Linked DNA regions of Homo sapiens. The protein of the gene in region 2 purifies or fractionates together with the protein of the main gene of each other region. This does not show direct contact. Each region holds a gene or a part of one and is shown on either strand. Other genes may lie near its edges. The genes, in order: NPEPPS, GBP1 and STK38.

What was found.
Region 1: the proteins of GBP1 (region 2) and NPEPPS fractionate together in Homo sapiens (co-fractionation; one large-scale study listed by BioGRID). This does not show direct contact.
Region 3: the proteins of GBP1 (region 2) and STK38 fractionate together in Homo sapiens (co-fractionation; one large-scale study listed by BioGRID). This does not show direct contact.

What each region holds. Positions count from the first base shown.
Region 1 is NC_000017.11:47,537,452-47,541,107, forward strand, and holds part of NPEPPS (puromycin-sensitive aminopeptidase), read left to right. Parts: intron 1-3,656. UniProt on the Homo sapiens protein: Aminopeptidase with broad substrate specificity for several peptides. Involved in proteolytic events essential for cell growth and viability. May act as regulator of neuropeptide activity.
Region 2 is NC_000001.11:89,058,624-89,062,279, forward strand, and holds part of GBP1 (guanylate-binding protein 1), read right to left. Parts: intron 1,702-3,656; coding exon 1,574-1,701; intron 804-1,573; coding exon 694-803; intron 421-693; coding exon 218-420; intron 1-217.
Region 3 is NC_000006.12:36,516,466-36,520,121, reverse strand, and holds part of STK38 (serine/threonine-protein kinase 38), read left to right. Parts: intron 1-2,281; coding exon 2,282-2,405; intron 2,406-3,656. UniProt on the Homo sapiens protein: Serine/threonine-protein kinase that acts as a negative regulator of MAP3K1/2 signaling. Converts MAP3K2 from its phosphorylated form to its non-phosphorylated form and inhibits autophosphorylation of MAP3K2.

The DNA.
Region 1 (3,656 bases), on a different chromosome or scaffold from region 2:
GGGAGGCTGAGGTGGGTGGATCATGAGGTCAGAAGTTTGAGACCAGCCTGGACAACATGGTGAAACCCCGTCTCTACAAAAAAATACAAAAATTAGCCGGGCGTGGTGGCACATGCCTGTAATCCCAGCTACTCGGGAAGCTGAGACAGGAGAATTGCTTGAACTCGGGAAGCGGAGGAGCGGAGGTTGCGGTGAGCTGAGATCACGCCATTGCACTCCAGCCGGGGTGACACAGCGAGACCCTGTCTTTAAAAAAAAAAAAAAAGTTGACTAATCTGAATGGAAATATTTCTAAAATACATTATCTTTTTATGCTTTGCAATTCCTCATAGTGTAGGTTTGTTTCATTGTTTTTTTTAAATACTGAACTTTATTTTGAACATCTCTCATTGACCCCAAACTATGTACTATAATTTATCAGTTTCATATCTGTTTTTTTTTTTCTTTTTTTTTTCTTTTTGAGACGGAGTTTCGCTCTGTTGCCCAGGCTGGAGTGCAGTGGCACAATCTCGGCTCACTGCAACCTCCGCCTCCCAGGTTCAGGCAGTTCTCCTGCTTCAGCCTCCCTAGTAGCTGGGATTACAGGCATGCACCACCACGCCTGGCTAATTTTGTATTTTTAGTAGAGACAGGGTTTCACCATGTTGGCCAGGCTGGTCTTGAACTCCTGACCTCAGGTGATCTGCCTGCCTCCGCCTGCCAAAGTGCTGGGATTACAAGTGTGAGCCACCGCGCCTAGCCATATCTGTTCTTTTTTTTTTTTTTTTTTTTTTTGAGACAGAGTCTCACTCTGTTGCCTAGGCCAGGCTGGAGTGTGCAGTGGTGCGATCTCGGCTCACTGCAACCTCCACTTCCCTAGTTCAAGGGATTCTTCTGCCTCAGCCTCCCTAGTAGCTAGGATTACAGGTGCATGCCACCACACCTGGCTAATTTTTGTATTTTTCTAGAGACCAGGTTTCGCCATGTTAGCTAGGCTGGTCTCAAACACCCGACCTCAGGTGATCCGCCTGCCTCTGCCTCCTAAAGTGCTGGGATTACAGGCATGAACCACCGCGCCTAGTCCATATCTGTTTTCTTTTTTTTTTTTTTTTTTTTGGAGACAGAGTCTTGCTCTGTCGCCAAGGCCGGAGTGCAGTGGCGTGATCTCAGCTCACTGCAACCTCCGCCTCCCGGGTTTAAGCGATTCTCCTGCCTCATCCTCCCAAGTAGCTGGGACTACAGGCACCTGCCATCATGCCAGGCTAATTTTTGAATTTTTAGTAGAGAAGGGGTTTCACCATATTGGCCAGGCTGGTCTCGAACTCCTGACCTTGTGATCCACCCGCCTCGGCCTCCCAAAGTGCTGGGATTACAGGCCTGAGCCACCGCACCCGGCCAGCCTGTATCTGTTCTTTAAAGTTGTTTTGTTTTCCTTACTCTCATGTTCTTCTTGCTGCTTATTGTGCCTTGTTGCTGCCTGTTGTGCAATTTCTTCCCTCTTGTATTTTACTGAACTTCATCTGAAGAAGCCTTAGTAGCCAGATAAACAAGCTTGTTTGGGCTAAAAAATCAATTGCTGTGTGAGAGTTTGTTGGATTCTCTTCTGAGTAAAGGGTATGCGTTTTATTGTACGGACTTTGTATCACCTATTTTGGCTTTTCATCTAGGCCTTTTTTTTTTTTTTTTCTTTTTTCTTTTTAGCCTCCTGGTTCTAGATACAACTGATACTCTGATACAACCTGGGTAAATGTGGTCTTGAGTAGTAAATTATCTGTGAAGCTTCTCCGAACTTTGCCACATAAATGAGCCTGCTCTTATTGTGAAGTAAATCTTACTCTAATCTGTATGTGAGTCAGTGGGAAATATCTGAGCCTTCGGATGGCTTTTGTTAACTGAGATTAGTTCTCTAGATTTTAGTGATTTCGTTTTGAACACCATACAAGTATGTGGTCCTTGGTTTATTTGGTCACTTGTAATCTCTTTAAAATTTTATTTTAAATTAGGAAATATTTTAGAAATACAAGAAAGTCACACACTATGAGATTAAACAGATGTTAACGTTTTGCCCCATTTTCATCAGACTGTGCATGCTTTTTTTGGGGGGGGAATAAAATGTCACAGATATCACTAAAGCCCATTTCCATCTCGTCCCACCCTGCCTCTAGAAGTAACTTCTTTCTTCAGGTAGGTGCGTATTATTCCTTTTTATTCCTATGTATAGTTTAAAACTTTAATTGCATATTAGTAGCCACAAACATCACATACCAATATTCTGTGCCTTTTGCATTTTTACATTAATGGTAATTATTTTTGACCTTCTGCAAGTGGCTCTTTTCAATGTTTCTTGTTAGAAAACTTGGCTCAACTTGAGTTTACTAATTATCTGCTTCTTCTTGTCTTTAGCTATTATAGAACTGTTCCACCAAGGCAACAATTATTGCTATTTTAATGGTGAAATCAGTTTTATTAGGCAAATTGACTCAGGCTTCAGACTGGCATTTGGAATTGTCACACTGGAGATTTTCTTTTACTGAAATCTCAGGACATTGACAATCAGAAAAAAACCCTCTTGAGTCTTACTATCTTACATGTAAGATATGTTCCTGAGTGACTGTAGTAAAGACTCATTCAGGAAAATGTTATCTCCGATTTCTGCCTCCCTATCTCATAGGAAACTTCCATTGTAAAGTTGTTACCAGGCGTCAAGCTGCCTCTTTGGTACAGCCCTTACTTAGTATTTGGCTCAGTTGAAGTGCAGTCTATATAGGAGGCCAAGAAGACTTAATCCTGGGTTTGAAACAAAGCAAGGATACACTAACATTCTATCCTTTAATAACATCAAGTAGAAAAATTGAAAATGAGCTTGTTATCAGTGCACTTTTATATGCCAACCTTGTTTCACTTGTGTTTTAAACTGGGAAACTGAAGATTTTAATGCTGAAATTTCTTTGAATTATTACCTGTTTTTTTGATAGTGGAACACACAGCTAATATTTACTAACATGAAGGTGTCAAAGGTGGGAAATCATGTACTACACCATCAGGTCAGCACTACTGTTTGGAAGAGCAGCATCACAATGAGCAGTGTTATACTGCGTTGTAGTCAGCACATACACTTATGTCCAAACAGATATTTTAAATTACCTTCTTGGGGTAGTACACATGTGCTGATATCCAAAGTGCCATATAATACAATACATAGTTTTTAAACTTCATATCATTCTGATCAGAAGCTTTATAAACTGTTAGGTGAATGCTGTTAGATGATATGAGAGCACAATTTAACCTGTGTGTGTGTATGTGTATGTCTTAACATCTATTAAGTGATGACTACATATGAAGCACTAAGTGCTAAAACAGAGACTTTACATAGATTATCCCATTATTGGTCAACTTTTTAAATAAGTGCATCTCTAATATAAGACAAGATGCTGACCAATTTTTAAAATGTGAATGGATTTCTATTTTTAAGATAAGTACCTTTGTTCCTTTGGTTCCTCCCTCCCACCCTTCCAGAAATGGTAGTATCCTGGAAAAAAAAAATTAGTAACAATTCAAGAAACAGCTTAATTCATTAGTATAAATAGATGAGTTTCCCTTAAACACAGGAGGAGTTGGAAGGTACTTGTAATTGGATGTTGTGCATGGTGCCTTTCCAAAATGCACAAATACTTTCT
Region 2 (3,656 bases):
CAAAGGTGAAAGAACAAGAAACTTGTTCTAGAACAATGACAAATGTAATTTAAAATAACATCTATTAATTTGGATATTCAGCAAGTATTAATTTCTAGGAATAGCCAGCTGAAGACATAGAAAACTGCAAATGCTGGAAAACTAGCAATAGTAAACTGAAAAATGATAATTTCTTGTGTTTTCTCATCCTCATTTATCAGTTGAAGCTCTCTGTTACCTTTCTTCAGCTTCAGGGAGTATGTCAGGTACTCATCTGGTGTGAGGGGTTGTCCATCTGCTTCCAAGTCCAGGGAGAAATCTCTCAGTGTCCACACAAAGTCTGGGAAGAAGCTCACAAAGTCAGCTGAATCCTCAACCTCATTCTCATTCTCATCAGGTGAGGATTTTGATCGGATTCTATGTGTCAGCTCTGTCACATAGCTGAGTAGCTAACTAAGGAAATGTGACAAAATGAACAGGGACCTCATCCCATGTTAGTTCAACACATACCCAAACCTTCCATTTTCCTTTGCTCCTAACCTAAGTGTCAGTGTCAGTTCTAAAGTGGATACATGGGATCTCTCCTCTGTACTTGCATTATTTTTTGTTTTCTCCTTTTGAGCTTGATTCATCAGGATTCACAGTCAGGCAGCTGGTGTATGAATACAGGTGTCCCCTCTGACCTTGGTGCTGTTCTGGGTCACAAAAGGATACTACAGTTGGTCCATAGCCTGCTGGTTGATGGTTCCTATGCTATTGTACACGAAGGTGCTGCTCAGGAGGACGGCCAGGGCGAAGATCCAGGAGTCATTCTGGTTGTCACCCTGGAAGTCAAGACACACTGGAGTCAGGAGCAAGTTTCATCATCGCAGCACTTTTCAGAGTAACAGTAGTAAAACTATGTTCATATGTTAGAGGGTTTTTTTTTCTTTTCTTTTTTTTTTTTTTTTTTAACACTAATGACCTATTAAAGGAAGACAAATACAAAAATTATTCTCAGTAGGATGTGGCTTTTGGGTAGTTTTTCGACGAGTGTTTTTGGGTTACCATGATTCTTACTAGGTCTTCTAATGATCATCAACAGATAATTGTAAAATTAAAATTCAAGGTTGGTGGGCATTTTAAGGCCTGAGTACAATGTAAATTTAAAATTTTCTCTTCTTTTTTTCAATAACAGAATTCACATATAAGATTGGTACTATTAGTTGCTATTTTATTGAATAATTAATATACACCTGTAATGTATTATCTTATTAAATATTCAAAATAATACTATATGGCCAACATAGGTCTTTTCCATACATTTTAAAGATTAGAATGCTGAGGCGAAAATAAGTCAATTTTCTCAGGCTACTGAATTAGTGACAGAATTTAAATTTAAATACAAAGTCACATGGCTTTAGCACCCAAATTCTTAACTAAAGTTCTGTGCAGGATAAGACTTATGACACTGGGATTATTTGTGCTCCCTTTATGCATCTGTGTTAACCCACACATATTACAGCCTGTAGTTAATAGTTAATAAACAATTAACCGCTGCATAAAATATTCAGAGAGGAGGGGCTTACTCCACAACTGGATCCTTGAGTCTCACCTTCTCTACATCTCCCAGACCCTCGGTGTCCAGCAGAACTAGGATGTGGCCTGGCTTCTTGGGGTGGGGCACACACCACATCCAGATTCCTTTAGTGTGAGACTGCACCGTGGAGCCCAGAGAGAAGCCTGCAAGGGAGAGAGGAGACCAGCGATGGGGATTTAGTAACAGGCAGTTCTGGCAATTGAAGGAAAAAGTAGTATATTTAAGGTTAAGAGAGAGAACTGAAACAACAATCAGTATTCACCTTACGTACTTACAATCAAAGAAATAGGAAATTTGAATATCCAATGCATGGAAACATTCAGGAGGCTTTCATGATAAAAATAATCAACAAAGTAGAAATAGAAAGACAGCACCTCAACATAATAAATGCCATGTATTAAAAACCCACAGCTAACTTCACATTTAATGATGAAACGTCATAGCTTTTCCTATAACATCATGAACAAGAAAAGGATGCCTACTTTTGTCAATTGCATTCCACAGAACACTGCAAGTCCTATCCAGAGTAATTAGACAAGAGAAGCATAAAGGAGGCATCCTAATTGGTAATGAAAAAGTAAAATTATCTCTGTCTGCTGATGATAGTATCTAATTTGTAGAAAACATTAACTATCCCACAAAAAACTATTAGAACTATTAAAACAATTCATCAAAGTTGCAGCATGCAAAGTCAATATGGAGAAATCAGTTGCTAGTGTAAAAAATAGAAAAGGAAATTTTGGAAACAATCCAATTTAACAGCATCAAAAGAATAAACTACTTAGGAATCAGCTTAACCAAGCAGGTGGAAGACTTGTAGAGTGAAAACTTCAAACACCCTTTAAAGAAATTATAGATGACATAAGTTATTAGAAAGACATCCTGTGTTTATGGATTGGAAGACTTAATATTCTTAAGATGTCACTACTACCCAAAGTGATGTACAGGTTTGATATAATCCCTACCAACATTCCAATTACTTTGTATAAATAGAAAAATCCACCATAAATTTCATATGAAATTTCCAGAGATCCCCTAATTATAAAAATAAAAAGGAAGAGCAAAGTTGGAGTCTCACAGTTTCTGAGTTGTGAAACGTATTACAAAACCATGTGTGGTACTGGTATAAAGACTGACATATAAACCAATAGAATAGAAAAGACAGCCCATGAATAAACTCTGATATATATGGTCAAATGATTTCCAGTATGGGTGTCAAGATCATTTAATGAAGAAAGGAGAGTCTCTTTAACAAATGATGTTGAGGAAATGATATATCTCCTTAAAAAGTTGGGCTATTACCTTATAACTTACAAATATGAACTCAAAATGGATCAAAGAACCAAACATTAGAGTTGAAACTATAAAAGTTGTAGAAGAAAATAAAGGGTAAAAGTTTTATAATATTGGATTTGGAAATTATTTTTTGAATAAGAAACCAAAACTATAGACAATAAAAGAAAAAATAGATTAGTGGGACTTCAGCAAAATTTAAAACTTTTGTGTATTAACGGACACTATCAACAGAGTTAAAAAAGGCAACACACGGAATGTAAGAAAATGGTTTCTAAACATGTATATGATAAGGGATTGATATCTAGAAAATATAAAAAAATTTACAAAGCAACAGAAATAAACAACCAGATTAATAAATGAACAATGGACTTGAATAGACATTCTCCCAAAGAAGATATACAAGTGGCCAATAAGCACGTGAAAAGATGCTCAACATCACTAGTCATTACGGAAATCAAAATCAAAACCACAACGAGATACTACTTAACTTCCATTCGTATGGCCACTATAAAAAAAAAAAACCACTGAAAATAAAAAATGTTGGTGAGGATGTAGAGAAATTAGAACCCTTGTGCATTTCTGTTGAGAATGTAAAACGGTACAGTCACTGTGGAAAATGGTATAGTGATTTCTTAAAAAAAGTTAACATGCAATGACTGCATGAGCCAGCAATTCCCCTTCTGGGTATATTCCCAAAAGAAGTGAAAGCAGGGACTTGAACAGATATTCAGACACCCATGTTCCTATTAGCATTATTTATAATAGACAAAAGGTGGAAGAAATCCAAGTGTCCATTGACAGA
Region 3 (3,656 bases), on a different chromosome or scaffold from region 2:
TACCTGGCTTAGCCATCTTGAAGAAGCATGCATTGGTTTTGTGCTAGATAAAAGATGGAAGTAGACCAGTGCAAATTCATCACCATTTTGGGGTAGGGCTGACAAAGTAGAGGTACAGAGGCAAAATTGTTTTTTTGTTTGCTTTTACTAAATAAACTGGGTAGGAATTAAAGCTACCCACTGAGAGTTCAGGTTATTTTTCTGCTCCACGTGGTGGAAATTTTTGCTACCTGGAAAAATTTAAAGGGTAAGACATGACATCTAACTAGCTTCTGATGTTTCTCTTCCAGTGCAAAAGGAAAACCTTCAGTTGTGATGCCAGTATACAGTTATTGATGGGACAAAAAACTGGCTTTTATTTCTGCTTTCTTAGGGCACAGGATAGCAACTAGCACCCCCCACCTTATTAAATATTTATGGAATAGGGGAAAGAGAACCTTTTTGTATAAATTGCACCTCAGACTCTTCCCTCCCTTAATCTATATTCAGCCAACTCCACTTTCAAACCATGAGGTTTCTTGCTACTGTTTCAGCCTCAAGAGAAAGGCAAGGTGTGCTCATGGTAGCTTTCCCCTTGACAAACAGGAAATGTTATGGGCACCATTGTGTCCTCCAGGGTGAGTGACAAGTGGTAATTGTAGTGCCTCTCCTTTTCTCTGGCTCCCTGCAGTAGGTAGGGAGCTTAATGGGAGCCAGGGGAGACAGGCAGATGAAGGCTGCCTTCTACTGTATTAATGTCTTGTAGTGACTGGGTCCTAGCCATGGCTGTGGGGCAGCAAGCAATGTTACTGTTTCCCAAAAGCTTTGCTTCTGTATTAAGGTCAAGTAAAGGCAGATGCTTTACTTGGTTTCATTGTGTTTCATAGCACTGTTTCTTTTCACCCTTATTGTCCATTTTTTCCCACCCCAATACCATAAGTACAGATGTAAAGATGTAGGTTTTCTGTACAGTTGCAGCTTTTAAAAAAATTCCCCAAAGAATGATTTTAGTAGATACTGAAAACTCAAATACATAAAGTCAAATGCCTCTGGGCCTCCAAGAGTTAGCATAGAAGCCTGAAGCAAGTTAGATATAAGACCAGGGGAGAGGGTGTTGAAATGGAAGAGTAATGGAAGAGTGCCTTGTCTCCCTAAAGACATGTCAATAAAACAAGCATCATATCAAACATTGTATTAAACCAAACAACAGCCATGGACTAAATTTGCCAACAGCCATGGACTAAATTTGCCAATTTGTGAACCTTGGTACATGTTTTACTTCAGAACATGTTGTAAAAAGTCAAGACCTGTAGCATATGTTAAGACCAAAACCACTATTCAGGGATTGGACTGAGTCTTAATAAATTTAGATCTGAATCAACCCAATTTAGACCTTGTGACACTTAAAAAAGAGGGGAGGGGCCAGGCATGGTGGCACACACCTATAATCCTAGCTACTTAGGAGGCTGAGGCAGGAGGATCACTTTAGACCAGGAGTTTGAGGCTTCAGTGAGCTATGATCACGCCACTGCACTCTAGCCGGAGTGACAGAGCGAGACCCCATCTTGTTTTAAAAAAAGTGTGTGTGGGGGGGATTTGATAATATGCAGTGATGTTTGATTACTGTTCTGCATTTAAAGTAAATAAGGTAAATTTGATAATAAAGCATTGCTTTAACAAAATAATTCCGGTTCTCTGAAACTTTCTACAACTTGGTCCTTTATAGGTATTTCAGTAAAAGTATAAAATTGGAAATGTCATTAATTTGAATCTACAACTTTTCATAGGTGTTCTTGTATTTCAATTCAGTAAGGATTGATTGAGCACATAGCAGTGAACTAAATGCTGTGGTATCATAGCATTCTAGAATTTGTCAGTGAGCTCACTGTTGTTGCAGATACTAGTGCAGACCCGAGGAAGAACTTGGAAGAGAGTCTCACTTTGGGGACTTATTTTTATCATAAAAGATTATTAGACAAAACTCTATGCAAAAGAGTAGTAATTTTAACTAATCAGAGATTCAGTTTATAGCAGTGTTAAAGTTGCTATTTGCATTAAAGCCATTCATTTTGCCATTTTTTAAAGCCTTTCATCACTCAAGTTTTCATCACTGAATACCTTGAAGTCAAATGTTGTCAATTTTGAGTTAGTAGGTTTGCCTAAGCAGAAATTGGATCTTTTATATCATCACGATTAAATACTCAAAACAGTATTTAAGCACAGTATTTAAATTGTTTAAGCAAATATACAATCTAATAAAGCAGAGCAAGCTTTGTCATTAATCAAATGCATATACCTCCAGGTTGGCCACATTCGTGCGGAGCGTGACATTCTAGTGGAGGCAGACAGTTTGTGGGTTGTGAAAATGTTCTATAGTTTTCAGGATAAGCTAAACCTCTACCTAATCATGGAGTTCCTGCCTGGAGGTAATTACTTGACGATGAAAGGTCATTTTTTCTTTTTGTTCTGTGGTTTCTTTCTCTCACATCACGATTAACCCTCCTTTCTACTTTTAAATGTGCTCACAAAGTTGCTTTCTATATCCTTTTTTAGGTCTATAAAGGAAGTCAGTAACCTGTCTTGTGCTGGGGTGCCTTTCTACAATCTTAGTACCATAAAAGTAACCTGTTAATTCATTTACATGATTTCAGATGGACATTTCTTTCTTTTCTTCTTCTTTTTAAAATATATAGGAATAAATTAGGGTGCTCTGCCTGCTCTCCTGTCAATGGGAATCATATATGATCAATAACCCAAGTGACAACATTGAAGCTATAACATCCTTTGCTCCAAATTTTTGTTTCTTTTTGTATAACATATTAATAAGGAGTGAATTTTTTGTTACCCATATTAGTAGCCAGAAAAAATTTCTCATTTCTGAAATTTTAAGTTTTATGTAACTCAGCATGAGCATCTCCTAAGACAGCTCCAAAGTAAACCCAGAACAGAACATGCCATCTGTTCTGAGGAAAGCAGTCTGTTTGTCAGTGAGCAGATGAACTCTGAGCAAACTCTGGTGGGAAAAAAAAAGAGAGAGAACTTTTTTCTTTTTTGTTCCTATAATTGTGGCATAATATTTTGATTTTGTGACAACCCTTAGATTTAGGGTCATCAATACTTTTTAATAAAGAAACACATTTAATAAAAAATAAACAGTTGATTAATGTTAGAAAAGAGTCTGGTAGAATGAGGAGAAACTTTTTTAACATTTAGATGCTAGTTCTTAAATAAGAGTAAGAGCCAACTTGGTTACCAGCTCCTAACGTGTCCTCAAGCCTCAACCTGTACCATCTTCCGTAGCTTCTCATGTCTCCTGGACCCTGCCCTTTGCACTTGGTGGAGCTGGCCTGCAGAGCCATAGAGCATCTGGCCTGAGCTCTCCAATCATCTGGGCAAACTTGCACAGGCGAGGCCCCATTGACTGCTCTCCTGAGCCACAGAACTAAGGCCGTATAGCTACCTTACTGGGGTAGCAGCCCAAGTGCACTGTCTCCATGTGTCTGGTGGGTCTCCAGATTGAAGGGCTGCCAGGAGTGATTAGGAAATCATATTTTTTAAGTATTGGACTGAAAAAGAGCACTTTAATAAATGGTTTAATTTTTGCCTGAGGGAAAAATAGCTACTTTTCTCCAATAATACAAAACATAATGTTCTAAATGAAATGAAACTGAAAAAGC